5 linked regions of the Homo sapiens genome follow. The protein of the gene in region 1 purifies or fractionates together with the protein of each later gene. This does not show direct contact. Each region holds a gene or a part of one and is shown on either strand. Other genes may lie near its edges.

What was found.
Region 2: the proteins of CCDC92 (region 1) and PAAF1 purify together in Homo sapiens (affinity purification with mass spectrometry; one large-scale study listed by BioGRID and IntAct). This does not show direct contact.
Region 3: the proteins of CCDC92 (region 1) and PSMD5 purify together in Homo sapiens (affinity purification with mass spectrometry; one large-scale study listed by BioGRID and IntAct). This does not show direct contact.
Region 4: the proteins of CCDC92 (region 1) and RGPD5 purify together in Homo sapiens (affinity purification with mass spectrometry, with the first as the bait; one large-scale study listed by BioGRID). This does not show direct contact.
Region 5: the proteins of CCDC92 (region 1) and RGPD8 purify together in Homo sapiens (affinity purification with mass spectrometry; one large-scale study listed by BioGRID and IntAct). This does not show direct contact.

The regions. Positions count from the first base shown.
Region 1 is NC_000012.12:123,937,154-123,943,243, forward strand, and holds part of CCDC92 (coiled-coil domain-containing protein 92), read right to left. Parts: intron 5,633-6,090; coding exon 5,591-5,632; intron 678-5,590; coding exon 1-677.
Region 2 is NC_000011.10:73,896,207-73,902,443, forward strand, and holds part of PAAF1 (proteasomal ATPase-associated factor 1), read left to right. Parts: intron 1-2,939; coding exon 2,940-3,038; intron 3,039-4,063; coding exon 4,064-4,214; intron 4,215-6,237. UniProt on the Homo sapiens protein: Inhibits proteasome 26S assembly and proteolytic activity by impairing the association of the 19S regulatory complex with the 20S core.
Region 3 is NC_000009.12:120,813,645-120,819,751, reverse strand, and holds the end of PSMD5 (26S proteasome non-ATPase regulatory subunit 5), read left to right. Parts: intron 1-1,588; coding exon 1,589-1,846; 3' UTR 1,847-3,699; downstream 3,700-6,107. UniProt on the Homo sapiens protein: Acts as a chaperone during the assembly of the 26S proteasome, specifically of the base subcomplex of the PA700/19S regulatory complex (RC).
Region 4 is NC_000002.12:109,831,053-109,837,289, reverse strand, and holds part of RGPD5 (RANBP2-like and GRIP domain-containing protein 5/6), read right to left. Parts: intron 5,974-6,237; coding exon 5,838-5,973; intron 4,440-5,837; coding exon of another isoform or gene 4,327-4,439; exon of another isoform or gene 4,271-4,326; intron 2,294-4,270; coding exon 2,199-2,293; intron 1,472-2,198; coding exon 1-1,471.
Region 5 is NC_000002.12:112,391,075-112,397,311, forward strand, and holds part of RGPD8 (RANBP2-like and GRIP domain-containing protein 8), read right to left. Parts: intron 3,680-6,237; coding exon 3,544-3,679; intron 2,146-3,543; coding exon of another isoform or gene 2,033-2,145; intron 1-2,032.

The sequences.
Region 1 (6,090 bases):
CGGGGTGGCGTGGTGGATCCGATGTGCCACCCCGACGTGGGCCTTGTGCGGCTTTTCGCGGGCCGGGCTGTGCTGCTCGCCGCTTCGGTCGGAGGCGATGGGGGGGATGACGAGGGGCCTCTCTTTGATGAGGTGGACCTCGGCGGACTCCCTAGCCAGCAGAAATGGGGTGGGGTCGGGCATAGCATCCACTGGTTCCCGCAAAAGGAGTTTCCTGCTCTCTGCCCCGAATCTGTAGACCTCTTCAAATTCCGGGTGCAAGGGGGCTGAGAGGCTCTTTTTCATGCGGCGGCGAGGCGTTTCGGGTAGCTTGTCTTTGGGGGGCGCTGGCTTGTAGCTGGCCAGCACGGGGCTCCCTGACGGGCTGGCATCTGAGGTCCCGCTGGAGCTCATGAGCTTCTTCTTGGCGGCGTGCAGCTGGGAGGTCAGGTAGGCGATGGTGCTGGCCCGCTGCTCCAGCTCGCTAGACAGCAGGGTCAGCTTGTGACTCTTGGCCTTCAGCTCCTCCAGGTACTTCTTCTCTCGCTCCTTGATGGTGTTCTCCAGCACTGTGATCATCGCGTTTTTCTGCTCCAGTTCTTTCAACAACTCAGCATTTTCGTTCTCTTTCACTTTCAGTTGGGCTTCCAGCTCTTCACATCTTTTCTTTAATTCACTGCTTTTAGAAGTCCCGTCTCCTACAAGAATAAGCCGAGGAAGCAGGTGAAGAACTCATTAGACTGAGGCCGAGTGGTGAGGCCTATGGGGCAGGCGGACCTGTCTGGTGGGGGCCCTGTCTAGGCTGTGGGGGCCATGCAGAAGGCAGGGCTGTGGGGGCTCTGGAAAGACCCCTCCCCTCCCCGAGGTGGGGAGATCGGGGCATCTCAGAGGCCCTTTCCGGCTCTTAGTTCTCTGGCCTACTGCATAAAAGAATGTCTCTGAACCTTAAAGATGCTGAACTTAAAACAGGCAATTGCAGAGTATCAGACCTCAGCAAACACTTAGGATTCAACTGGCCGCAAATCCCTCTGTCTGCTCAGATGGCATTTATGGAATGCCTGCTACATTCAAAGTACTGTTTTGAAACTCAAATGTAAAAAGAATTATCCATGTCTATTGAATTAAAATTCTGATGTTTAGAGGAGAAGAGGTGTGGGGCTGTCACCTTTGCTCTGCCGCTGGCCGCCTCTCTCACCCCCCTACCCCCGTCTCTCTCACACACACACACACACAGACTCTTTCCCACTTCCTGCTCAGAGAGTGAGCTGTCTCGCCTCTGTGGCTCTTACCCTTGGTCCCTCCCTGCCCCTGCCCTAACACTTCGGGCCTCTGCCTCCTTTTGCTGTCCCTGGGTGCCTGCCCTCACCCAGTCCTTCAGCAAACACCAGCCACCTCCTTCTCCTGCTCTTCTGGTGACCTGCAGTCCCTGGTCACCTCACATAGCACCCTTGGCTCTAAACCCTGGGTCACCATCCTACTCCTCCTAACGCTGGCTGGCTGGCCATCCTCCTTGCCTGGCCCCTGGGAAGTTCTTTCTAGACTCTTCCTTGCTGGTCTGGAATTCAACTTGAGCATCAGCTCCCGATTCAGTGTCTCCTGAGCACCACTTCTCCAAGTGAGTGTCCGTCAGACACACCCTCAAGTCCAGATAGCTGCTCTGCTTCCCACATCTTGACTCTCCCAGGGAAACTGGATGCAGTCGCCATCCCTGGCCTCCCCTCCCTGACTGTGCCTTTCTGCTGGCTGCTCAGTGCTGCCCCCTCCCTGCTCCTCCAGCCGGCCTTGGTCCCACCTCCTCTCTGGTCTTCGTTTCAGCCCATCCTGTATTTAGGAAGCTTGGTCACCCCCTAAATATTCTTGTCCTCTGTTCAAAATGGTTCCTCACTGCCTAATAAAACCCAAACTGCCAGATGCCTTCCAGTTCCTCAATCTGTCCTGAATGTTATCTGCTCCCACATAAATCAAAGCTTCCATCACTCTCCCCAAGCCACCACCTCTTGTTCTGTCTCTATTGTACCCTCTGTCCTTGCCCTAACTCCAGACCTGCACGCCCAGTTTCCCTGTACCAACTCCACCACCCAGGGCCTGCCTAGGCACTGGACGCCACTGGACGTCTTTCCCGGGCTTCTGTCTGTCTTGCTTTGAATTTTCCCACCTGCCTGAGCTAGCAGCAGCTCTGCAGCATGTCCCGCCGCCAGACTCTGAGCTTTTGAGGGCCCACAGCTGACTGGACTGGTCTTGTGCAGGACACTTGCATGTTACAAGCTCGCTGCAGGTGATGGGCGCTCCTCGACTTAGCATGGGGTCATGTCCCGAAAAATCCAATGTAAGTTGAAAATACCGTAAGTCAAAAGTGTGTTTTCGATATTTTCAGCTTACCATGGGTTTATCTGGACATATCCATGGTAAGTCGAGGAGTGTACTGAATGGGTATTGCCCCATGCAGTTGAAAAATTTTAAGTTGAACCATTGCAAGTTTCTAGTTTTAAAAACCATGTGTCTGTGTGTGTATGTGCAGGTATAATGTCAGCAAATGACCTCCCTAAAAAGGATGCATGCAGTACTACCTTTCATGAGGTTTCTTCTTTTGCCAAAAGGAAAATAGATCCTAAAACACAGTTTCAGAGGTAGAGAGAGGGACAGAGACACACACACGACTCTGTAGACACTGTAAGACCCAGGAGCCCAGCCACCTGGGCTGAACCCCTGCAACCTGAAATGCTGACCTGGGCACGGCATTGGGCCTGGTACCCGCTGTCCTTCCCCCAGGGCCTGTGGGACAACAACCCATGCCTGTCGCAGGGCCTTTGCTTTCAGCCCACACTCGGGTGGACAGTGGGCCTTGGGCTCCTTCCGAGGAAGGGCTGCAACCTCAGACCTTCAACCACATCCCTGGCCTGCTGTGAGCATCCTGGGATTTTTCTTCCCCCAGGCAGTGCTGCAAAAGGCTGATGGACGTTTGGAACATTCAGGAACAAGGCTGTCCCTGGGCTTTGCTCATGTCCTGTGAGGGGCAGCCCACAAAGGCAGAGGGCCCTGGTGGTCGGACTGGGGACTTGGATTTGTGGGGCACCTGTCAGATGAAGATGCAGGTTCAGAGATGTCAAAGAACCTGCCCAAGGCCACACAGCCCCTCCGAGTCAGAGCAGAGGCCCAAATCTGGGGCTCATTAAGCATCACTCTGGTTCTTTTCGCCACAGCATCCTGAGAGAAGCTCCTCCTGGATAGACATCCTCCTCATCATCCTTCCTTGAGAGTCATCTAGCTGTGCTGCCTCCTCCTCCAGGGTGCAGCCTTGGCTCCGGGCTGATGTTTACCGGCCCCGACTTGAGTGGGCCGTCCTGTGGGAAGGAGCTGGTACGACTGCTCCTCCATCCCCAGCTCTGGAGAGCTGCTTCAGTGACTGTCCTTCCCAGGAATCAGCACCTCCTGTTTTGCCAATTTCTTGCTCTTTATAGAAAGCTCCACTCCACCTCCTCCTCTGTACGTACCCCCTTTCTGGAAATTTCAGTCTTCCCATGAAAGCTTGGTGCACACTGAGCTGACAGCAGCCAACTGCTGCTGGTCTCCAAACGCTGCACTGCTGAGCCTGCCCGAGCGTCAGGGCACTGCAACGCTTCTAAACCTGCGCACTCCCTGGGCCCGCCCAGACTTCTGGGGTCACAGCCCCCAGGGGAGGGAAGCCAAGAGTCTATGCTGTACCCTGGGTCCCGAAACTGCTTGGAATTGGGCAGTTTTGGGTGCACTAATGTAAAACAATGATTTTCACCACTGGGAGGGGAGACGCCCCGACTGGAACCACCTGAGAGGCTTTTGAAACTGCCTCCCCTAAGACACAGCCCTTGCTGTGAGACCCTGCTGCTGCTGGGAGTACTACATCAGGTGGGTGGGTGGGTGGGCAGGTGGCCTTGGGACCTCAGGTTGAGAACCGTGACTGGAGAGGCCACAGGGCAAAACTATGCTGCTTCAGATTAGCCTGGGCCAGGAGAGGACAGGGAGCGAGGACGCCCTGGCTTCCATGACACGGGTAGCTCCTTTCCCAAGGCTTCAGTGCTGGCAGGTGTGGACGCTGGAGGTCCCTAGTGTCAGGCTGAAATCCTGTTCCTCTGCATTCCCACAGGCCCAGCTCCCAGTCCCAGGGCTTCGGGGGAGGTCCCTGGTATCCCTCCACAGGGAGACTTCTGAGGACAGGCTCCCATTCCACCACCCCAAGAAGCCCACGGCGCCTTCCCTACCACACGCAGACAAAAAGATGTCTGGGCTCCTGGGTGGCGCACTCAGGAGGCTGTAATATGAGCAATGCAAATGGAAAAAAATCAGTGCTCGGTAATCCACTAAGGCTTGGTGGAAATGGTCTGTGTCTTTTACAAGGAACTGGACACTCTCATGAATAGTAACTGCCATTGTGAGGCCTGTTTAGAAAAAGGCATTGTGGGGAATGGAGAAGTTCTTCAAAGTTTCTTGAAACCATAAAGAGCTTGTCATTTCCTTGCTCTATGTATATCTCTATATATGTTCCAGTGTAGCTGCTCCGCCTTGCCCCGGCACGCCTGCGCAGGGCTGAGCGAGCCCTGGACCATAGTGCATGCTCTTCCTTATTTGGAAACTCTCCTGACCCTCTCATGACTAGCTTCCTCTTTTCTTTGTCCTCTTTCCCTTTTGCCTATTTAGGAAAGTTTCAAGCTGTTAGCCAATCGGGTCAAGCTTAGAATGTGAGGTCCCATTCCAGTCAATGGAAACTGGACACAGTCATAGGGCAATTGCATCAGGTTATGAAGATTATAAATGTCCTCGTCTCCTTTGTTTGAGTGTGCTCTCGTGGTAAGACTGCTGGCGAGTTGCACCCTTTCTGCAGAAAGTAAACTAGCCTTGCTGAGCCATCCATTGCCTTCCCGACGTGATAAACCCGTTTCCAACAGGTGTCTCTGCACAAACATGGATTCAGCACTTTCCAAACACCCACCCTGTTTTAGGGAGCAGGCTCTTTGCAGCAGGCACAGAGGGCCCTGGGAAGGCCTGGGTTTCTGTCTCTTCTCTGGCGGCCAGCAGGCAGCTGCCCTTTGGGGTTTCCTGAGGTCCTGGAGGATTCTGGTTTGGGGAGGGTTCTGGGGCTGTAGTCCAGAGAAAGCCCCAGATCCTCAGGGAGCTGTCTAGTAATGTGACCACTCGCCCGCCAGCATTTAGCAAGCTGCTGCTCTGTGCCAGGCCCATGCTAGGCGGCAGCGACACGGAGGAGCGGGGGCGGTTCTGCCCAATGCTGCTGCTGCTGTTACTCCTCCTTTTGGGTTTAACTCACGTCTATTTTTATGTCCTGATTACACAAGGAACACATGTTCATTGTAGGAAAATCAGAAAAACATATAATAGGCATTCCAAATATATGTGTCATTCAAAAGAAAACAAAATCACTCATCCCCCTGCCCACTAATAACCACTTGCAACACGGAGGGATCCAAACATCCTTCTCATCTTCTCTTAGAGAGCTCAGGCCACACGCATAACTCTTCCCAGCAAGAGCATTTTCTCCTAAGTGTGTGACTAGTGAAAACGGCACCAACACGTACCACAAAGGGAAACCTACTGTCATTTACTTCTGGGGAGGAGTTCTTACCTGTCTGTTCCGAACTTTTGACTGTCAGCTCATATGTTAAATCTAAAAGGGAAATGTTACACATTAATTCTTTTACTGTACATTTCAAAATCTTCATCAGCTTTGAAAATGCAAAACCGATTCCCACGATTAGCCAGCGAGTCCTACCCAGACAGAGCAGGGTTTGGCAGCAGGAGAGGTGAGCATGAGAGCAGCAGAAAACATCTGCGGCCACTGTGCTCCCTGGGGTCAGAGGGCACCCTCTGTTCCCCCAAACTCCCTTCCCCATTCCCCCACAGCATATCCCAACCATCCAAACCAAACAATCCAGCAGCTGGCTCTATGTATCACACAGGCTATATCTTGGTTATCAGTTCCAAAACACATTGGAGATTCTAACCATTGTATTTTAATCTCTTAAGTCCTCAGTATGCCAAGAAAAGGCTTTGCAGCTTTATGCTTAGTGCATCTTGATTATGCAATGAGGATGATATAAGGCATTCAGATGGACTCCTGCAACG
Region 2 (6,237 bases), on another chromosome or scaffold:
TTCTATAGCTATACCTATATATAGGTATATGTGGAAATATCTGAACTCTTTTTTTTTTTTTTTACGATGTTTCTTTTTTTCTTTTTTTCTTTTTTATTTATTTTTTTTTTTATTGATCATTCTTGGGTGTTTCTCGCAGAGGGGGATTTGGCAGGGTCACAGGACAATAGTGGAGAGAAGGTCAGCAGATAAACAAGTGAACAAAGGTCTCTGGTTTTCCTAGGCAGAGGACCCTGCGGCCTTCCGCAGTGTTTGTGTCCCTGGGTACTTGAGATTAGGGAGTGGTGATGACTCTTAAGGAGCATGCTGCCTTCAAGCATCTGTTTAACAAAGCACATCTTGCACCGCCCTTAATCCATTCAACCCTGAGTGGATACAGCACATGTTTCAGAGAGCACAGGGTTGGGGGTAAGGTCACCGATCAACAGGATCCCAAGGCAGAAGAATTTTTCTTAGTACGGAACAAAATGAAAAGTCTCCCATGTCTACCTCTTTCTACACAGACACGGCAACCATCCGATTCTCAATCTTTTCCCCACCTTTCCCCCCTTTCTATTCTACAAAACCGCCATTGTCCTCATGGCCCGTTCTCAATGAGCTGTTGGGTACACCTCCCAGACGGGGTGGTGGCCGGGCAGAGGGGCTCCTCACTTCCCAGTAGGCGCGGCCAGGCAGAGGCGCCCCTCACCTCCCGGACGGGGCGGCTGGCCGGACGGGGGGGCTGACCCCCCAGACCTCCCTCCCCGACGGGGCGGCTGGCCGGGCGGGGGGGCTGACCCCCCCACCTCCCTCCTGGACGGGGCGGCTGGCCGGGCAGAGGGGCTCCTCACTTCCCAGTAGGGGCGGCCGGGCAGAGGCGCCCCTCACCTCCCAGACGGGGCGGCTGGCCGGGCAGAGTGGCTCCTCACTTCCCAGTAGGGGCGGCCGGGCAGAGGCGCCCCTCACCTCCCGGACGGGGCGGCTGGCCGTGCGGGGGGCTGACCCCCCCACCTCCCTCCCGGACGGGGCGGCTGGCCGGGCGGGGGGCTGACCCCCCCCACCTCCCTCCCGGACGGGGCGGCTGGCCGTGTGGGGGGCTGACCCCCCCACTTCCCTCCCGGACGAGGTGGCTGCCAGGCGGAGACGCTCCTCACTTCCCAGACGGGGTGGCTGCTGGGCGGAGGGGCTCCTCACTTCTCAGACGGGGTGGCTGCTGGGCGGAGGGGCTCCTCACTTCTCAGACGGGGCGGTTGCCAGGCAGAGGGTCTCCTCACTTCTCAGACGGGGCGGCCGGGCAGAGACGCTCCTCACATCCCGGACAGGGTGGCAGGGCAGAGGTGCTCCCCACATCTCAGACGATGGGCGGCCGGGCAGAGACGCTCCTCACTTCCCAGATGTGATGGCGGCCGGGAAGAGGCGCTCCTCACTTCCTAGATGGGATGGCGGCCGGGCAGAGAGGCTCCTCACTTTCCAGACTGGGCGGCCGGGCAGAGAGGCTCCTCACTTTCCAGACTGGGCAGCCAGGCAGAGGGGCTCCTCACATCCCAGAAGATGGGCGGCCAGGCAGAGATGCTCCTCACTTCCCAGACAGGGTGGCGGCCGGGCAGAGGCTGCAATCTCGGCACTTTGGGAGGCCAAGGCAGGCTGCTGGGAGGTGGAGGTTGTAGCGAGCCGAGATCACACCACTGCACTCCAGCCTGGGGCACCATTGAGCACTGAGTGAACGAGACTCCGTCTGCAATCCCGGCACCTCGGGAGGCCGAGGCTGGCGGATCACTCATGGTTAGGAGCTGCAGACCAGCCCAGCCAACACAGCGAATCCCCGTCTCCACCAAAAAAACACGAAAACCAGTCAGGCGTGGCGGCGCGCGCCTGCAATTGCAGGCACTCGGCAAGCTGAGGCAGGAGAATCAGGCAGGGAGGTTGCAGTGAGCTGAGATGGCAGCAGTACCGTCCAGCTGGGCATCAGAGGGAGACCGTGGAAAGAGAGGGAGAGGGAGACCGTGGGGAGAGGGAGGGGGAGGGGAAGGGGGAGGGAGAGGGAGAGGGAGAGGGAGAGGGAGAAGGAGAGGGAGAGGGAGAGGAATAGCTGAACTCTTGAATCCTCCTGGTGCATCTTAGAACATTATCTTTTGTGTAAGTGGGTTCCTAAGAATTAGGAGAGGTATCTTAATTTTCTTTTTATTTTTTATATTTACTTTAAAATTTTTTGTAGAGATGGAGTCTCATTATATTGCCCAGGCTGGTCTCGAACTCCTGGGCTCAAGTAATCTTCCTGCCTTGGCCTCCCAGAGTGTTGGGATTACACAGGTGTGAGCCACTGCACCTGGTCTTAATTTTAAAATAAAATAGCAGGGCTGGGCACGGTGGCCTATAATCCCAGCACTCTGGGAGGCTGAGATGGGAGAATCACTTGAGCTCAGGAGTTTGAGACTAACTTGGGCAACATGGTGAAACTCTGTCTCTACCGAAAAATACAGAAATAAGGCACAGTGGTGTGCGCCTGTAGTCCCAGCTACTCGGGAGGCTGAGGCAGGAGAATCACTTGAGCCTGGGAGGCAGAGGTTGCAGTGAGCTGAGATGGGGACATTGCACTCCAGCCTGGGTGATGGGAGTGAAACTCTGTCAAACAAACAAACAAACAAACAAATAAATAAATGCAACACATGGAAACTATGGAAATGAAATGGGGATAGGGAAAACTTTTTAGCTGAAGCATTAGACTTCAGATGATTAGAGGAATATCTTTTTGTTTGAAGAAGTAAAAGGTGTTTACTTCAGCCTTGTTGGGAGGTTGGTGATGATAACTCAACCTTTACATCAAACACAAGTCCTTTTGTTGGGAAACACAGGCTTCAGGAAGTCTTGGAAGAGTGAAAAAAGGGAAGTTTATAACATATTTCAAGGGAATAAGAGTATTTCATTATTTCTAACACATTGTTTGTTTTCTCTTTGAACAGATAACATGCCTGGACATTTCCAGCAGAGGAGGTCTTGGTGTGTCTTCTAGTACTGACGGGACCATGAAAATCTGGCAGGCTTCCAATGGAGAACTCAGGGTAAAGGATTTGGATGTACTTTTAGGTCTTAAACACAAAGGGTGGTCTGAGAAGCCTTGGACTGGGACATGGAAGGAAGAATGGCCCATTCTAAAAATGTGGGACCACTCTGCATGTCAGTTGATCTCTTTTCTCCCATTTGTGTGTTTCTTTTTCTTTTTCTCTTTTTTTTTTTTTTTTTTTTTTTGAGACAGTCTTGCTGTGTTGCCCAGGCTGGAGTGCAGTGGTGTGATCTCAGCTCACTGCAACCTCCGCCTCCTGGGTTCAAGCGATTCTTGTGCCTCAGCCTCCCAAGTAGCTGAGATTACAGGCATGTGCCACCACACACATCTAATTTTTGTATTTTTAGTAGAGATGGGCTTTCGCCATGTCGGCCAGGCTGGTTTCCAACTCCTCACGTCAAGTGATCTGCCCACCTTGGCCTCCCAAAGTGCTGGGATTACAGGTGTGAGCCACCGCTCCTGGCCTCTCAGCTGTCAATTCGAGAACCTTTCTCAAGCTCAGTGATTTGGCAGAACAGAGTGGGGCTGGAGCAGTTAAGGAGCCAGACCAGTGAAGGTCTAAGTGGGTGTGCCCTTGTTTTTTAATTGCCTTCAGTGATCCATTTCCAAGACAGAATAGCTTGGCTGTTAGACTGAATCTATGGCTGAGCCTCCAACCTTTACAAAGGATTTTAAACAGAGATGAGTGAAAAAGTCCCCAAGCCACCTCAGCTCTTTAACTAGATCTAGAGATGGCTGTGAAAGCCATGGAATTCTTTTTTTTTTTTTTTAACCTAGGCTCTGGGGTGTTTTTACATGGAATTCAGTTCTATAACCTCTATAGCTGAATTCGAGGAAACACCTTTTAGAACACTGCCTGCTAGACAAATGAGCTAAGAGATCCTTTGGATATCCTTAGTTTTAAAACCCAGCATGTGGGTTTAGCATGTAGGTATTTCATATAAGGGACCAGAGTATGGGAGGTAAGAGAACATCAAGGGATGGACAAGAGAACTAGCATGGAATTTTCTTTTGTTTTTCCAGAGAGTATTGGAAGGACATGTGTTTGATGTGAATTGTTGCAGGTTTTTCCCATCAGGCCTTGTGGTCCTGAGTGGGGGAATGGATGCCCAGCTGAAGATATGGTCAGCTGAAGATGCTAGCTGCGTGGTGACCTTCAAAGGTCACAAAGGAGGTATGAAGTGTGCTTTCTCCAAAAGGCTTCTCTAATGATCCCCAGAAATGAATCACTGAAAAGGTAGAAACAAGCTAGTTTATTCACAAATACACAAATAATCCATCCAGCTGGGCATTTAGATGAGCTGCCATTTCCCTAAGGACCAGAAATTCCTTTGCCACACAGTCTTTTTATTGCTATCTTGAACTGTCTTACACAGTTGGTTTGATACCTAAAGCCTTTTCCAGCTGGGTGCAGTGGTGCATGCCTGTAATCCCAGCTTTAAAAGTTGTTTTCTGGCCGGGCGCGGTGGCTCACGCCTGTAATCCCAGCACTTTGGGAGGCCGAGGCGGGCGGATCACGAGGTCAGGAGATGGAGACCATCCCGGCTAAAACGGTGAAACCCCGTCTCTACTAAAAATACAAAAAATTAGCCGGGCGTAGTGGCGGGCGCCTGTAGTCCCAGCTACTTGGGAGGCTGAGGCAGGAGAATGGCGTGAACCCGGGAGGCGGAGCTTGCAGTGAGCCGAGATCCCGCCACTGCACTCCAACCTGGGCGACAGAGCGAGACTCCGTCTCAAAAAAAAAAAAAAAAAAAAAAAAAAAAAAAAAGTTGTTTTCTACAATTGATAAAGGAAAAAAAAAATCCTCTCCAGGAAATCGTATACTTGTGTGCTGGGAAATAGAGAGAGAGAGTGAGAGAAAAGGAGATGTGTCTGCATTTTCTCATATTAGTCTTTTTGGCTGAGGGAACAGTAAAAGCTGGGTGGCTAATGGCTGCATCATCAGACATTATGATAGAGCTTGATGATTCCCATAGATTTAAATTACAGTTCGTGTTTTAAAAATGGATTAGCCATATAACCAGTTAATATCAGATTATAGATATACAGTGGGAACATCTTCCCTTTGTAACTGAGTTTTGTGGGGAAAAAATATTATTTAGGTATGTTTTATCCTTAATTGGAGTATTAAAAAGGAGATAAGTATGCTATTCCTATTTTACAAGTTTGAATATTTTAAAAATATGTGATAATATCCCCAAATAATTCCTTGATCCTTCTTCTGGAACCATAATACATATTGCGTGTACCACTCATTTGGGAATTAATTTGTATTGCCCTCTACTTCTGGGATTTTTAACTCTGTGTTTTTGTGAACCTCAGTACATTGTAACTTGTGTGTGGAGATCAAGTTTTAAGATTTTTTTTTTTTTTTAAGATGGAGTCTCACTCTGTCGCCTAGGCCGGAGTCCAGTGGCATGATCTCAGCTCAGTGTAACCTCTGCTTCCCAAGTAGCTGGGACTACGGGTACACGCCCCACACCTGGCTAATTTTTGTATTTTTAGTAGAGATGGGGTTTCACCATATTGGTCAGGCTGGTCTCAAACTCTTGACCTCAGGGTGATCCACCAGCCTCGGCCTCCCAAAGTGCTGGGATAACAGGCATTAGCCACTGCGCCTTGCCTTTTTTTTTTTTTTTTTTTAGTTTCGCTTGTTGCCCAGTCTGGAGTGCAGTGATGCCAGCTCGGCTCACTGCAACCTCCCCATCCCAGGCTCATGCGATCCTTGTGCCTCAGCTTCTCAAGTAGCTGGGATCACAGGCGTGCACCACCACATCCAACTAATTTTTGTATTTTTTAGTAGAGATGGGGTTTCGCTGTGTTGGCTGGGCTGGTCTTAAACTGGCCTCAAGTGATCTGCCTACCTTGGCCTCCCAAAGTGCTGGGATTACAGGTATGAGCCACTGCGCCTGGCCCAAGTTTTAAGTTTTAATATTTCTTTATAACATTTTGCCAGATTACATGCTGATGTTTTAGCAAACACACACATTAACCTAAGTACATAAATGGTTTACTTCCATGATGTAAGAAAACGGGTACATTGAGAGGGAATAGAAACAATATTCAGAGCCTTCCTTACATTACTGAAGAACTCATCACCTCCTGAAGAACTGAGAGATTGAAGGAGTCAGAATGGCCTACAGATCTGGGGAGTCCAGGAGCCAAAGTAGTCTAGAGGAACAGTGCAAGCTTCACCT
Region 3 (6,107 bases), on another chromosome or scaffold:
CCATTCTCCTGCCTCAGCCTCCCGAGCAGCTAGCCTACGGGCGCCCACCACCATGCCCGACTAATTTCTTTTTGTATTTCTAGTAGAGACGGGGTTTCACTGTGTTAGCCAGGATGGTCTCGATCTCCTGACCTTGTGATCCGCCCGCCTCGGCCTCCCAGAGTGCTGGGATTACAGGCGTGAGCCACCGCGCCTAGCCAGAAACATTTCTTTAAGACTGCTTCACCCTTGTAAATGGTCATTGTATGAGATGGCCATTTTGGATCCTGCTTAGTATTTTCATTATTAGTTTATTTTGGTTTTGCTCTTCTACCTTATCCTGTGCTTAGCTGGTTCCATTGTAGAAATAATTTTCTATTTACTGGTTGGGATAACTATTTTTATTTCTGCCTACTTTCATGCTTGGTTGTGAAGCAGGCCAAAGTTTCTCAAACATTAATCTTAGGAATCTTATTAAAATGTAGATTCTAATTCAGTAGTTGTGGGGCAGAGCCTGGGATCCTGAAAGTCTAACAAGCTCGCAGGTGTTGCTGATGCTACTTGTCTGTGGAACACATTTTGAGAGGAAAAAACTAGGCCATAAACTTGTTACTTCTTTTTCATTAAAACGTAATAGGTTTTGAAAAACTTAATCTTAAAATTTGGAAAAGACTTAGAAGTAGAATTTTTTAAAATCACAGAAAGTTCTACCTTTTGGTGTATTTCCTTTTAGTTTTTGTATTAGTGTGTGTTTATTTTTGGTGAAATATTTCAAATATAGTTGTATCTTGCTACCTCTGCCCAGTCCTATTCCCCTTCCTCTGTTCTTAGATAAAATCACTATCACAAAGTCAGGGCCCATAAATGATTTCATATTTCTACTACATATTGTGTGTATCCTTAAATAAAACACAGTATTTTAGATATTCATAAACTTTGTAAGTGGTATCATGCTGTTTGTATCATTCCATTAGGTTGGTGCAAAAGTAATTGCAGTTTTTGCTTTTTTTTTTTTTCTCTTCAATGTTACGTTTTTTTAAAATTTGTCTATGTTAAAAGAGGCAGTTAGAAAGTTGGTATTTCATTGAATAGCCACAATATATCATTCTCCTATAAATGAAGATTTAGATAGTATCTTACAAATGATACCACAATGAACATTCTTGAAAATGTTTGTGCACTATATGAGTATCTTGAGGTTAGTCTTTTCTACTTTAGTTTTTATTTTTCCACTGTTGTAATCATGCATTGTTTATAATTTGAATCTGCTTTTTTTATATAACAGGTTTACCTGTATCATTTCCTATTTTTTGTAAACATTATTGTTAATGTTTATTTTTATTGCTATATACCATAATTTACTTAACCATTCTCCCATTATTAGATATTTATATTGTAACTTTCACACTATTATGAACATTTTTGTATACAAAGATTTTTCATATTTAAGATTATTTTATTAAGTTAGATTCTCAGGAAGGAATTTACTTAGACAAAAGGTAACATTTTTAAAGTTCATGTTGCCAGATTTCTTTGTAAATATTGTGCCATCCCATTAACAAACAACTTCCACTCAGGGGAATTGTATTCTTTCTGCCTTCCATTTCAGGCCATTGCAAACCAACCCTGGGCTCAGAAACTTATGTTTAACAGTCCAGGTTTTGTAGAATATGTGGTGGACCGGTCTGTGGAGCATGACAAAGCTTCAAAGGATGCCAAATATGAACTAGTGAAAGCACTTGCCAATTCCAAGACAATTGCAGAAATCTTTGGGAACCCAAATTATTTGAGGCTCAGAACTTACCTGAGTGAAGGGCCATACTATGTGAAACCTGTTTCCACGACAGCAGTAGAAGGAGCCGAATGATTTCTTCTAGAGCTCATGTAGAGGACCACGTTTTGACCAAAACTTCTCCTAAGGCATTTGACTCCATCTATATTTCACAAAAGAGACTTCCTTTCCCCAAGAATTATCATGGAATGTCAGATGTTACTTTGTTACCAACACTGTTATATTTCTACATTGAAATGCAAAGTGGAACTAGGAGTTTGGAATGCATTAAGAGCAGACAAGCTTGGTCATAATAGATCCAGTGTTTTTCAGATTCCTTTCACTGCCTTAATCTTTGCAACAGGGTGGAAGTTTTTTTCTTCCCTCAAAATTTTCATGGACATGCAATCTTATCTAAAAGCCTGCTTCAGGGCTGGGCGCGGTGGCTAACACCTATAATTCCCAGCACTTTGGGAGGCCAAGATGGGCAAATCACTTGAGTCTAGGAGTTCAAGACCAGCCTGGCCAATATGGCAAAACCCTGTCTCTACTAAAAATATAAAATCAGCCAGGCATGGTGGCGCACACCTATAATCTCAGCTACTCAGGAGGCTGAGGCACGAGAATCGCTTGAGCCTGGGAGGCAGAGGTTGCAGTGAGCTGAGATCTTGCCACTGCACACCAGCCTGGGCAACACAGCAAGACTCTGTCTCAAAAATAAATGAATAAAATAAAAACCTGCCACCAAATTATTTCTGGATTCTCTTCACTATCTTTTTTTTTCTTTTTGGTCCTTTTTCCATTTCTGATTCCACTTTCAAAGTCTTGGATATATTCTTTGAAAAATGAGTAGTATGGAATATTAAGATTATGTTCCTTATACTCAGAATACTTTTTATGAGCTCTCTTGTTTTTTTGTTACTATTATTCCTTTGAAAAAAAGACAAAATATCTAAAAAATGTTTATAGTGTTCATGTAATTTTTTTTGCTGTTTACCAATGAACTTTGCCCTGTTGTGGTTTTGGGGGATCAGAAGGATTCCTAAACTGTCATTTCATTTATTGGTAGGTCATGATTGCTGAGGGTTTTGCTTTGGATTTTTCATACCTATAAAGTCAATCTTGAGTTGATCAGAGAAAGGGAAACTTACTCCTAATAAACAGACTCAGAACAGAAGGGACATATGCATAAATCAGGATACCATCTCATTAATTTACAAAGGATAATCTTTCTTTTCATTGACAACACCTACACCCACCTGTTTTCCAGTGTTCTTCTCTCTAAACAGCAAAGCCAAAGCACTCTGCACACCAAATCACCTGTTCAGAGGTTTATGCATGAGCATATTTCTTTTAGGCCGTGGTGAAGTTGATAAACCACCCCTGCTTTGTAACAAAATTATTTTAAAGTGACTGGAATTATCTAGTCCCCAGATTGATCATCTCCCCTGGCAACGTGACTCTGTTTTTTGTGTGTGTTTCCATGCTGACTAGTCCCCTACTGTTAATATCACTACTAATTAGGCTATAACCAGGTCTTTCCTGGCCTGAGAAATATTCTCTTAAAATGACCTTTGTTTTAATCTCATTCATGATGTTGATTTTTTTTCAATGTGGTGCAATATATACAATAAAATTTGTCATAACTATTTTAAGTGTACAGTTCAGTATATTACATATGTTCATAAGTTGTACAACCATCACCACCATCCATCTTCAGAATTATTTTCATCTTATACAATTGAAACTGTATTCATTAAACAATAACTGTCTATTCCCTCTTTTCCCCAGCCTCTGGCAACCACCATTCTGCTTCATGACATTGATTTTATTCACTTAACATCAGATTTTGGGGGGATGCCCTCTCTCCTATGTATGGTCTACACATTCTGATTTTTTTTTTAGATTGAATAAAATTTGTAAATCATTATTTTCATTTCATAAGTAAACACCTGTTGACTGCCTATTATGTTCTTGGGATTGGGGAAGGTGCTAGACATTGGCCTAAGTGCCAAGTGCATCTCATTTAATTTTTACATCCCTGTTTCACAGATGAGGAAACCAAGACTTTAGTAGCTTATCTGAAAATCACACAAGAAGAAAGTGTCTTATATTGGAAGAAAATAGGTCAATAGAAAATTAGAGAGTATAAGAAGTACAATAATAGAGGAAAACAGAAAACACGTCCCCTGACTTTAGGAAATGTTTTCCAGGGAAGGAAACACCTGCATCTTGAAGAACTAGTAGGAGGCAATCAAGTGAAGAATACAGTGGAGTAGCAAAGCAAGACAGCAGGTACACATGAAAACAAGAGAACATGTTTGAGAAACTACAAGTAATTCAATATGACCAACGCCTAGGATTTAAAGGGAAATTTTTGCAAAATTCTTTATCATTATTACTAATAATAGCTACCATTTCTTAGCATTGATTTTATGTTAGGCACTTGGCATGCATTTCTTACTTTATCATCATAATAGCCATAAAAGTTACGTATCATTTCACAGACAAAGGCACTAAACTGGGAAATTAAGTACTTTGTACAGGTCGCAAAGCCAGAATATTAATCTGATTTTCTGAGGATTAGTTGTACTCCCCTTTTGTCACTTGGTTATATTTTGAAGGTAATAGTAGCTAACAGTTACTGAGTTTTTAATGTGTCCCAAGCATTTTCTAAGAGGTTTTCATGTATGAACTCATGTGGCCATCGTCACACTTCCAGGAGTTATATAACAAAACCAAGGCACAGCAAAATTCAGGAACTTGCACGGGATCGCATAGCAAATAAGAGAAGTCAACATTTCAACCTAGGCTGTTTAACATAGAATATATGTTCCTAAATACTGCCTCTTCCTCTTAGTGAACATTTACTATGGACCAAATCCATTGACAAACACTTGACATATCTCATGTAGACCATCAACCACACAAAGATTGAGTTTGTACATAAACAGGGTCAGGATGACTTAACAACATATCAAAAAATCTGGTCTAATAAGTGTCATGGCAGGGACTTTCAAGGTATATAACTTTGGGAACACCTAAAAATCTCAAGAGCCCCAAGATGGGAACTACTGATCTAATCATTACACAAGAGAAATCAGAAAGTGTGTGTTGTGGGTTGAATAATGTTCCCCAAAAATATGTGTTCAAGTTCAGGTACCCCCAGTACCTGTGAACATGATCATATTCCTCAATGGAGAGGAAGCCAGGTGCAGTGGTCACGCCTGTAATCCCAGCACTTTGGGAGGCGGAGGCGGGTATATCACCTGAGGTCAGGAGTTCAAGACCAGCCTGGCCAGCATGGTGAAACCCCATCTACTAAACAGAAAAATTAGCTGGGCATGGTGGCACATGCCTGTAGTCCCAGCTACTTAGGAGGCTGAGGCAGGAGAATTGCTTGAACCCGGGAGGCAGAGGTTGCAGTGATCCCAGATCACACCACTGCACTCCAGCCTGAGCGACAGAGTGAGACTCTCGTCTCTAAATAAATAAATAAATAAATGGAGAGGAGGTAGGGCATCTTTGCTGATGTAATCAAGTTAAGATGACATTAGGGTGGGCCCTAATCCAATGAGTAGTGTCCTTACAAGGAAATTTGGACACAGAGACACCCAGAGGGAAGATGATGTGAAGTTACTGACACACAGCAGTCCATGTAAAGGTGAAGGCAGAGGTTGAAATTACACGTTTGCAAGCCACAGAACGTCAAGGATTGCTGGCAACCAGCAGAAGCTACAAGAAACAAGGAAGGATTCTCCCAACAGGCTTCAGAGAGAACAGGGCGCTGACACCTTGATTTCAGCCTTCTAGCCTCAAAAACATGAGAGAATAAGTTCCTGCTGTTTTAAGTCACCCAGTTTGTGATACTTTATTATAGTGTCCCTAGGAAATGAATATAGGGTATATTTCATGACATGAAATGTGAATTTGTTGCACCCATCTGTGAAATACTGCCTAAGTAGAACTTGACAAAAGTTAGACATCCAACTCTTTACACTAGTGAAGTTTTAAGCTAATATAAACTAGAGGGCTAATAGATTCACATTACTTGCAGTTCTACCACCCAGATTACTAAAATGTTTCCTGCTTGCAGACAAGAAACTTTTTTTTTTTTTTTTTTGAGACAGAGTCTTGCTCTGTCACCCAGGCTGGAGTACAGTGGTACGATCTTGGCTCACTGCAACTTCCGCCTCTGGGGTTCAAGCGATTTTCGCATCTCAGCCTCGTGACTAGCTGGGATTACAGACGTGCGCCACCATGCCCGGCTAATTTTTGTATTTTTAGTAGAGACAGGGTTTTACCGCGTTGGCCAGGCTGGTCTCGAATGCCCAACCTCAGGTGATATGCCTGCCTC
Region 4 (6,237 bases), on another chromosome or scaffold:
TATTATCATAATTCTGTAAAATCTTTATATCACCAATGCCCCTTTCTTTCCATTGACCAACATCTTTATCATATCTGTAGATTTCTGCCCTGTGACTAAAAACAACTTGTTCATTTTCCTCACCACTGGATACTTCAACTAGATCAGGTAAAGGAACAACAGGTTCAAAGTACTGTCCATCTCTCTCTTCTTCTTGAGTAACAACAGATTCTTCATCAGTGCCAACTGAAGTCCCACTCTGATTCAACTTGGCAGGAGACTTAGATAGACTCAAAGCAGATTTAAAACTGAAGTTAGATCCTGTTGTTGACTCATCAAAGCGGAAAAGATTTTTTCTCACAGGGCTACTTGCCAATGGAGAAGCATGTACTGAGCTACTACTGACACTATCATCCAAAGCATCTTCCCTTAAGTCATAGTTATCCCATTCTAATGTGGGCCCAGTGTTTTCAGCATTGGGTTTTATTGTTGTGTCTGAGGCACCGGCCGCACCTGTACCTGAACCCTTATTTTCTTCCTCAGTGACTTTTGTTTGATCATTTGTCAAAAATGTTTTGAAATCTTTCAGTCCACTCTTCATTTCTTCAGCTCTCTGTATTAACTTGGCAGCTCTGCCAGTATCTACAAGTTTATGGGGAGTTTGAAGTGGTATGTCTAACAGAAGCCGCTGGCATTCCTCAAATTTCTGCTTGAATTCTTCAGCCAGCTCTGGTGTTTTAAATTTTGCTGCCAACCGCTCTAGTTTGGCATCACCGTCAGAGAAATCACTGGCTGACCACATCCATGCTCTATCTGATCCAGAGAGGGGCTTCAGGTTCATTGTAGTCGTTATCCAATGATTAGCACACACTTTTAGTACTTGTTCTCTTCGCATCAGCATTCTTAGTTTGCCATTGACCTCGTTTTTGAGAATTTTTAAGTTCCCCAAGCCCCTTTCTTTCCACTGCCTTACCTCAGCATCAAATCTAAATAGTTTTACCCCCTGTGAATACAGAACTTTTTCACCTTCTTCTCCTGTTACAAGTTCTACTTTTTCAGGCATTTGAACTACTGGTTCAAAATGGATGTCATCGCTGTCCTCAGTCTTATAGGCATCATCATCTTTCTCAAAGTCACCGGAAGTGTTTGCTTTATTGGCCATTTTACCGTATCGTGATGAGAATAATTTTTCTCCAGCACCTGAAAATCCCTTGAAATTGAGGTCTTTTTTGCCAAACTGAAATCCTTCTCCTGAAGTTGATTTTGCAACATCTGCAAATGTAAAAGTGCTACTTGTTTGGCCAAAAATCACACCACGGCCCTTCTTCCGGCCACTAATATCCTGAGCCTGGAAGCCAGTATCATTTTCAAGAGGCTTTTCCCTTTTCTTTTCTTGATTTCCTGGTTCCGAAATGCCAAATTTAAATCCATCAGCAGACACAGGGATGGAAAATCCTTCTTTGGTTGACTTAAATTCTGTATTAGAAGAACCCTGAAACATAAATGAAGGTGAATTTTCTTGATCCACATGCCCAAAATAGTCATGAAATAAATACCTTCTTCATTCCTAAACAATTTATCAAATGATGTTAACAATAATGATGATGATGATGATGATAACATTTATTGAGCATTCATTAATGTGCCAGCTGGGCACTGTTCTAAGCACTTTACATTATTATCTCATTTTAATATCCTCAAAAACCCTATGAATTAAGGTATTATTATTATCCTCATTTTACATATGAGGCAACTGATGCATTGAGAGGTTAAGAAACTTGCCTGTGGTCAAAATAAGCAGAAGAGCAAGGGTCTAAATGCACCCCAACACTCTGTCCTCAAAGCTGTCACATTCAACTACCACTGTAATATTGAGTCTTCAATCAATTGTTATATATATAGCTGTATCAGGCCTGAAAGTACTTACCACATAGTGGGTCAGCAAGGGCATTACAGTTCTATTTCTGTTAAAACAGAACGATGAAGGATCCACCACCACCACTCCCATTTTTAAAATATTCTAAATATTCACACTTACTAACACAAAAATAAGGTGACTAAGAAGGATAATTTCTGTATTTGGAGATAAATTTAAAATATCTACATTTTAAGGGACATAAAAGTTTTAATAGTGAACTGCTCTCTTGAATTTATTTGAAGGAACCCTAAACAATTTAAAAAGAAAATAATTATAAATGTATAAATTATTCCTTTGTTACCTTTGTGGGAGTAACATTAGCTGCTGGTCTGAGAAGATACTGGGAATTATATGCTGGTGACTGACTATAATATACTGAAGGGCCAGTAGTTGCAACTGAAAAAAAAAAAAGAAAAGAAAACACTGTTAAAGTCTATACTACAGTTAAGACTATCTAGGCAAGAGCTATAAATACAAAAGCAATAGAAGTTAAAGAAAGATTTAACTACATAAATTTTAAATTTCTGTACATCAAAATACACCAATCAAGATTATCAAATGACAAACTAGAAAAAAATTGCTAAATATGACATGAAGAATGAGAGAATAGCATCGCTGTGATCAACAAGAACTACCTCGCAAGCATTAAAAAAGGAATAAAGAAGATAGTAACTGTTGCCTTTTCTAAGAAAGATCAGTATGATGTGGAATTATGGACATTCAGTCACAGAAAGGACGTAAGGAACCAAGATGCCATCTGATAGTCAATGCATTTGAAGTGGGCCTAGAAAATCTGCAGAAAGACTAGGTTGTATTTTGTAAACTAAAGCTATTACTCAGAATGTTCAGCTCAAAAATCACCTGACAAATTCATGGAAAGGATGTCATAAATAACATAAAATGTGTTCCCTGGCTTAAAATAAAAAGCACATCAACACTCATACAGATGTACAAACTGTCTGCTCCCTCTGTTTGGTCTGTTTTACCAGGAAACAAAATGACTAGAAGGCACCCATGTTAATGACAAAACTACCAATAGTCATTTGCTTGAACTGTTTTATGATAGTTTTACCAGAAAACAACCAAAAGACCTTTTATGCCTGTACATGGAAGGAGAAACAGAAACTGTGCCAAGAGGTTCCAAACAATTGCCTCTGGAAAGCACTGAAAAATCAAGACCTAGAAAAGGCTAGCCAGAAGCCCAAGTTTGATTTCGGAAACCTTACAGAGGTGAGGATAGCTATTTTGAAATTACTATGGGGAGGAAGCAGGCACAGAACACAGAACAACCTGACAGAAATGGCCCAAGAATCTTAAAGTCTTGCAAGATGTCTGTCTGCATGAAAGCAAAAAGAAAAAATAAAATATTAAATAAAAAAAAATCTTAGTCTGAAGTTTAAGTAGGGACTTTAATTGACTACTGACTCTAAACTGTGCGGCTCTAATAAATCTACTAAAAGTAATCTAATTTTTTAAAGCACCATATGAATAGACAATTTAGGAAAGAAATGTTAATAGGCCTCAAGGAACATGTTTTTGAAGTGAGCCTTGAAAATCTGCAAAATGACGAGGTTGCATTGTGCAAATTGAAGCTATTATGAGAATGTTCAGGTCAAAAAAATTACCTGACAAATTCACGCACAGGATCTCACAAGGAACACAAATGTGTTCGTTGGCTTTAAAAAAATCACATTAACATTCATGTTGATATACAAAAACTCTTCTCCATCTGTTTTGTGTGAGTTTTACCAAGAAACCAAACAACTGGAAGGTACGTTGAAGATGGCAAAACTACCAACTGCCATTTGCATGAATTGTTGAGCATGACTAGTATTAAAAAAACTTAAAAATTGATATCACTTTTGTTCCTACAAATTGGCAAAGGATTTTATAAACTAGTAAGTCAGCATTAGCAAAAGTGCGAAAATGGCACTATCAGATACTAGCGGTAAGAGCATAAACTGAATATTTTGAATACCCTACAAAACTAGGACAGTGTCCTAGAATTTGTAATGGCATAAACCAGAAACAACATAAATAAAGGAACAGAATTTACAGTACTTCCATGTGATGGGATACCATGAACTCATTAATATTCAAAAAACATTTAAGTTTAAAAATGCTCAGAACTAAAGTAACATTTTAAAAACAGGCTAGCTCATCTACACACAACATAGTAACATGGTAACAATCTCATAAAAAATACTATATGTATAGAGAAAGAACCAGAAGGAAATGCTCTCAAATATAAGAAATGTTAATGAGGTGGTTAGCTTTTAGTTTTCTTCACCCTGTTCAGTACTTCTGAGTATCTCCTATGAGCTCATTAATCTTTAATTTTAATCATCTTATTTTAAAAAAACAAGGACCATCTTGATATATGTTTACTTTTATTAAGGAAAAAGAATCTATGAACACAGGAACAGAAATCAGGAGATCTTGGCTCTCGCCCTTTCAGTGCCACAAAGCTGTTTTGTGAACCTGTAAATAATCCATTTGGAGTCTCCATGTTTCTCAATTGTAAAATGACGATGTGCTGCTTCTACACATTTCACAGGGTCATTGCAAGAATAAAATGAGACAATGAGAATGTTGGATTTACATGCTTGTATAAGAACAGAAGACCTTTTATGCCTGTACACAGAAGAAATGGAAATCATGACCCACAAGGCACCAAATAACTGACTGCACACATCACTAAAAAAGCCCCAGGAAAGGCTAGCCGGTTTGTTTATCCTCTTACAAGGACCTATATGATGTGTAAGGTTTTAAGAAAACAAGGTTTGAACGTTAGACATTTCATATACTTATCTATGACTTACGACATTTAATAAGCTTGACTTCACAAAGATTTTCTGTTATTTTGCTTGTGTTGAGAAGATACTATCACAAAAGGCTAGTGGGGTTGCCTTAACTATAGGAACCATCACACAAATGTGCTCATCTAAACTAGATTTTTTTCTAAATCTTTCCTGGGCTAAAAAGAGAAAAAAAAAAAGGGCACTACTACTACCATTTCAGAAGTCTGTCGTACGTAAAAGGAACAATTTTGTTATTTCTGGCTGCCTGGGAGCAATGTATTATACTGGCAAGTGCTTTGGAGTTACACCACTGGAGTGTGAATCTCGGCTCTATCAATAACTAGCTGTATAATAATGAGTAAGTTACCTAACCTTTCTTTATCCATTTCCTTATTTATAAAAAAGGGATTAATAATGGTACCGGCCATTCTAAGTTACTGTAATTAAATCAAATTACATTCACACAGCACTTTTGCACACAGCCAACCCACAGTAAACACTATTAGTAACCTTAGTTCATTAACTGTTTACTGTATACTCTAATAAATGTCTGATACACACCCACGCCCACCTGCACATACACAAATGCTCATAGTAATTATGTAAGGCAAGTATTATCTCCACATTTCAGACAGGTTAACTTACACAGCTATTATAGTAAGTGATAGAGCAGAACTTAAAAACCCAGTATGATTCAGGTCCAAACTCCTTTTCTTTCTTTATATAACCATAATATTTCAAATTAAGTAAGATTTCCTATATAACGTCCTGCCTCTCATCATTATCATCAAAATAATTCCCCAGAGGTGTAGGTTCTTAATTAAGCATTTCTTAGTGCATAACTCTATTCAATAACATTTTGCAATTTAAGGAATAATCTCATCTCAGCTCATCTGAGGTGTGGATTAAGTGTTCTTTAAGCCTTTATATACACGTGATCACATACGGCTCGTTTTTTCTGCTTGGGATTATAAAAATCTCCGTAACACCTAATACAGCTTTTGAAGTCACATATAAACAGACGTTGACATGTATATTAACAAACATATATAAACAAGGTGATTTCACACGTTATCTACTTAAAAGAGGGAAGTAAAGTAGTTTTACTAAAATATGCGATTATCCACTTGCCAGCTCACCTGTTAGTGGAGCCCCATGAAATGTCTGTGACCCCTGATATCCATCAGGCACCGAGTCTGGTCCATAATTCTCTGTGGGCCAACGATGACGGGATGCTGACTTACTGCTATTTAGTTTCAACTCCTGCATTTCTTTCTATTGGAAGAAAAAAAAAATCAAATAATTTTAATCATTTAATTATATCATGCCAGAAACAGTGCTGGGGAAACTTACTCTTTTAAATTTAAATAACTGATTTTTTCTTTTTTTCTTTTTTGAGATGGTGTCTCGATCTGTCGTCCAGGCTGGAGTGCAATGGCACAATCTTGGCTCACCGCAACCTCCACCTCCTGGGCTCAAGCAATTCTCCCACCTCAGCCTCCCGAGTAGCTGGGATTACAGGCGTCAGCCAGCACGCCC
Region 5 (6,237 bases), on another chromosome or scaffold:
AAAAAAAAAAGAAAAGAAAGAAAACACTGTTAAAGTCTATACTACAGTTAAGACTATCTAGGCAAGAGCTATAAATACAAAAGCAATAGAAATTAAAGAAAGATTTAACTACATAAATTTTAAATTTCTGTACATCAAAATACACCAATCAAGATTATCAAATGACAAACTAGAAAAAAATTGCTAAATATGACATGAAGAATGAGAGAATAGCATCGCTGTGATCAACAAGAACTACCTCGCAAGCATTAAAAAAGGAATAAAGAAGATAGTAACTGTTGCCTTTTCTAAGAAAGATCAGTATGATGTGGAATTATGGACATTCAGTCACAGAAAGGACGTAAGGAACCAAGATGCCATCTGATAGTCAATGCATTTGAAGTGGGCCTAGAAAATCTGCAGAAAGACTAGGTTGTATTTTGTAAACTAAAGCTATTACTGAGAATGTTCAGCTCAAAAATCACCTGACAAATTCATGGAAAGGATGTCATAAATAACATAAAATGTGTTCCCTGGCTTAAAATAAAAAGCACATCAACACTCATACAGATGTACAAACTGTCTGCTCCCTCTGTTTGGTCTGTTTTGCCAGGAAACAAAATGACTAGAAGGCACCCATGTTAATGACAAAACTACCAATAGTCATTTGCTTGAACTGTTTTATGATAGTTTTACCAGAAAACAACCAAAAGACCTTTTATGCCTGTACATGGAAGAAGAAACAGAAACTGTGCCAAGAGGTTCCAAACAATTGCCTCTGGAAAGCACTGAAAAATCAAGACCTAGAAAAGGCTAGCCAGAAGCCCAAGTTTGATTTCGGAAACCTTACAGAGGTGAGGATAGCTATTTTGAAATTACTATGGGGAGGAAGCAGGCACAGAACACAGAACAACCTGACAGAAATGGCCCAAGAATCTTAAAGTCTTGCAAGATGTCTGTCTGCATGAAAGCAAAAAGAAAAAATAAAATATTAAATAAAAAAAAATCTTAGTCTGAAGTTTAAGTAGGGACTTTAATTGACTACTGACTCTAAACTGTGCGGCTCTAATAAATCTACTAAAAGTAATCTAATTTTTTAAAGCACCATATGAATAGACAATTTAGGAAAGAAATGTTAATAGGCCTCAAGGAACATGTTTTTGAAGTGAGCCTTGAAAATCTGCAAAATGACGAGGTTGCATTGTGCAAATTGAAGCTATTATGAGAATGTTCAGGTCAAAAAAATTACCTGACAAATTCACGCACAGGATCTCACAAGGAACACAAATGTGTTCGTTGGCTTTAAAAAAATCACATTAACATTCATGTTGATATACAAAAACTCTTCTCCATCTGTTTTGTGTGAGTTTTACCAAGAAACCAAACAACTGGAAGGTACGTTGAAGATGGCAAAACTACCAACTGCCATTTGCATGAATTGTTGAGCATGACTAGTATTAAAAAAACTTAAAAATTGATATCACTTTTGTTCCTACAAATTGGCAAAGGATTTTATAAACTAGTAAGTCAGCATTAGCAAAAGTGCGAAAATGGCACTATCAGATACTAGCGGTAAGAGCATAAACTGAATATTTTGAATACCCTACAAAACTAGGACAGTGTCCTAGAATTTGTAATGGCATAAACCAGAAACAACATAAATAAAGGAACAGAATTTACAGTACTTCCATGTGATGGGATACCATGAACTCATTAATATTCAAAAAACATTTAAGTTTAAAAATGCTCAGAACTAAAGTAACATTTTAAAAACAGGCTAGCTCATCTACACACAACATAGTAACATGGTAACAATCTCATAAAAAATACTATATGTATAGAGAAAGAACCAGAAGGAAATGCTCTCAAATATAAGAAATGTTAATAAGGTGGTTAGCTTTTAGTTTTCTTCACCCTGTTCAGTACTTCTGAGTATCTCCTATGAGCTCATTAATCTTTAATTTTAATCATCTTATTTTAAAAAAACAAGGACCATCTTGATATATGTTTACTTTTATTAAGGAAAAAGAATCTATGAACACAGGAACAGAAATCAGGAGATCTTGGCTCTCGCCCTTTCAGTGCCACAAAGCTGTTTTGTGAACCTGTAAATAATCCATTTGGAGTCTCCATGTTTCTCAATTGTAAAATGACGATGTGCTGCTTCTACACATTTCACAGGGTCATTGCAAGAATAAAATGAGACAATGAGAATGTTGGATTTACATGCTTGTATAAGAACAGAAGACCTTTTATGCCTGTACACAGAAGAAATGGAAATCATGACCCACAAGGCACCAAATAACTGACTGCACACATCACTAAAAAAGCCCCAGGAAAGGCTAGCCGGTTTGTTTATCCTCTTACAAGGACCTATATGATGTGTAAGGTTTTAAGAAAACAAGGTTTGAACGTTAGACATTTCATATACTTATCTATGACTTACGACATTTAATAAGCTTGACTTCACAAAGATTTTCTGTTATTTTGCTTGTGTTGAGAAGATACTATCACAAAAGGCTAGTGGGGTTGCCTTAACTATAGGAACCATCACACAAATGTGCTCATCTAAACTAGATTTTTTTCTAAATCTTTCCTGGGCTAAAAAGAGAAAAAAAAAAAGGGCACTACTACTACCATTTCAGAAGTCTGTCGTACGTAAAAGGAACAATTTTGTTATTTCTGGCTGCCTGGGAGCAATGTATTATACTGGCAAGTGCTTTGGAGTTACACCACTGGAGTGTGAATCTCGGCTCTATCAATAACTAGCTGTATAATAATGAGTAAGTTACCTAACCTTTCTTTATCCATTTCCTTATTTATAAAAAAGGGATTAATAATGGTGCCGGCCATTCTAAGTTACTGTAATTAAATCAAATTACATTCACACAGCACTTTTGCACACAGCCAACCCACAGTAAACACTATTAGTAACCTTAGTTCATTAACTGTTTACTGTATACTCTAATAAATGTCTGATACACACCCACGCCCACCTGCACATACACAAATGCTCATAGTAATTATGTAAGGCAAGTATTATCTCCACATTTCAGACAGGTTAACTTACACAGCTATTATAGTAAGTGATAGAGCAGAACTTAAAAACCCAGTATGATTCAGGTCCAAACTCCTTTTCTTTCTTTATATAACCATAATATTTCAAATTAAGTAAGATTTCCTATATAACGTCCTGCCTCTCATCATTATCATCAAAATAATTCCCCAGAGGTGTAGGTTCTTAATTAAGCATTTCTTAGTGCATAACTCTATTCAATAACATTTTGCAATTTAAGGAATAATCTCATCTCAGCTCATCTGAGGTGTGGATTAAGTGTTCTTTAAGCCTTTATATACACGTGATCACATACGGCTCGTTTTTTCTGCTTGGGATTATAAAAATCTCCGTAACACCTAATACAGCTTTTGAAGTCACATATAAACAGACGTTGACATGTATATTAACAAACATATATAAACAAGGTGATTTCACACGTTATCTACTTAAAAGAGGGAAGTAAAGTAGTTTTACTAAAATATGCGATTATCCACTTGCCAGCTCACCTGTTAGTGGAGCCCCATGAAATGTCTGTGACCCCTGATATCCATCAGGCACCGAGTCTGGTCCATAATTCTCTGTGGGCCAACGATGACGGGATGCTGACTTACTGCTATTTAGTTTCAACTCCTGCATTTCTTTCTATTGGAAGAAAAAAAAAATCAAATAATTTTAATCATTTAATTATATCATGCCAGAAACAGTGCTGGGGAAACTTACTCTTTTAAATTTAAATAACTGATTTTTTCTTTTTTTCTTTTTTGAGATGGTGTCTCGATCTGTCGTCCAGGCTGGAGTGCAATGGCACAATCTTGGCTCACCGCAACCTCCACCTCCTGGGCTCAAGCAATTCTCCCACCTCAGCCTCCCGAGTAGCTGGGATTACAGGCGTCAGCCAGCACGCCCGGCTAATTTTTGGTATAATAGTAGAGATGGGGTTTCACCATGTTTGCCAGGCTAGTCTTGAACTCCTGACCTCAAGTGATCCACCACCTCAGCCTCCCAAAGTGCTGGGATTATAGGTGTGACCCACCACGCCCGGACCTGATTATATCTTTTGAAAGTTTCTATTTGCCAAAGAGTTCTAGGTACCTGGTGCTGATTTTAAAATATGATTCTTAATTTGTTAAAAATTTATCTGCTCCCATTTTCATTCGTTAATACAAAACCTAATTCATTAACTCTCTCACCTAAACAAATAACCTCCTAAATGATCACACCTTCATTTCCATTCTACACTTGCCTACATTAACCTTTCTGACGTTCACCTCCAGCCAAGACAATTCCCTGCTCAAAAAAACAAGTACCTACAAACTAAACTTCTTTCCCCAACTTTCACAGTCCTCTAACATTACACTGACCATCCTTTCAGTGTGTTCTTTCTACACTGCAACCTGGACTACCTGACATTCCAAATCACCTCCCCAAATTAGCTTTTCACTTAACCCTGTGTTCAAACAAAATACAACTAATTCTCAAGGTGATGTTCAAATGCTCCACCAGGAAAGGGAAAAAAGTAGTAGCTGCAGAGAATTTATTATGTATATAATAATACGTCCAATGCACTTAAACTCTTAATTTTTACACCATCTACACTGTTAGGTAAACAATATTAGCTCCTATCTTAAAATGAGAGAAACGGATGCAGGGAATAACAGCTGGAATTTGAAACACATCTGACTCCAAAAATGTTTTCTTAACACAACTCTGCTGCCTTGACAAGATGGCAGATAGATCCAATGCCGTCTAGTGTAGCTATGTGGCTACCTGATCTCTGCTGAAGAAAACTAAATGACAGCACCATACCCAACACCCTAGAACCTACAAAATGTCCCCTTACAAAACAGACACTTAACAGGAAATTCTTTTTCCAAAGAAATTGTAGTGGTATCAGAAAACAGGTAAATTTTGAAAAGTTTCAAACTTCTCTGTATCAGCCCAGGAATCCGATCAGTTCTAACAAGTGAGGTCAGGGACAGATCTAGCATGTCTGCTTTCTGTTTCTACAAGTGTTTCAATTAAAAATTTCCCAGAAAGACCTAACCATGAGGTCCAAAACTATCTCAATTTTCAAGCTAAATAAAATTTCCCCCATTCATCCATCTACAGTGCCTAGTCCAGATGCTACACATACACATCCAAGAAATAAGAAACTAGTGGAATCACCTAGAAAACTTTATAGTCACTGTTGGTATCCGCACCAGAGCTTTGAATTTGCAATCACTGCTGTAACTGTAATTTTTAACATTCAGTGTGATGAGAACTGGCTTCAATAATTCTCTCATTTTAAAGATAAGAAGCCAAACAGTCACAAAGGAAGTGACTGGCCCAAGATCATTAATTAATGGCAGAGTCAGTACTAGTACCAAGCTTTTCAAGCTCATGGACTAGTGCTCCACTATACTTCCACAGAATACAATGTTGGGAGCCTGAAACCTGTATGTTAAGTCAAAATTGTATGTAATTGTCATAGGCCACGACTACACAGAATTAACATTCAAAATTTTTGTGCAAATTCAAAAATGTCTTCCCCACCAAATAGTATTCTCTTAATTTGCAAATGCTGCTGATCACACTGTAATAATCGCCACACATCAGCATATCCTTGATGTAACTTTAGCAGTATGAGTAATTTAGTTCTTGCTTGATAAACATGAAAGAACCTACTTTTATTTCCAATTCCAAAAAAGTCAAGCTCCTTTGAACCCTATTGTTAAAATAAGATATATATACATAACTATTTCCTTACATAATTAAGTCAAATTCATATGGAAGTATTAAAATATAGTAAGACTTTTTGAAGCTCAGACCACTTTTCGATTCCTAGCTATACATTTGAAACACATGTAATCCACAGCTAATCTGGGAATGAACTCATAGACCAGAGTATGATTAGTACATTGTAGCACTTCAATCACTCGGGAACCTTCTCTGTGTCAGGAACTCTTATATTTTAAATAAAACAGTTTCTACCTTTGAAGGTCTCAAATTTTGTGGAAGATGAGGAGAGAGACACATAAAGTACTTTCAAAAATATGGTAAAGGGCTGGGTGCGGTGGTTTACACCTGTAATCCCAGCACTTTGGGAGGCCAAGGTGGGCAGATCACCTGAGGTCAGAAGTTCAAAACCAGCCTGGCCAACATGGTGAAACTCTGTGTCTACTAAAAATACAAAAATTAGCTGGGCCTGGTGGCGGGTG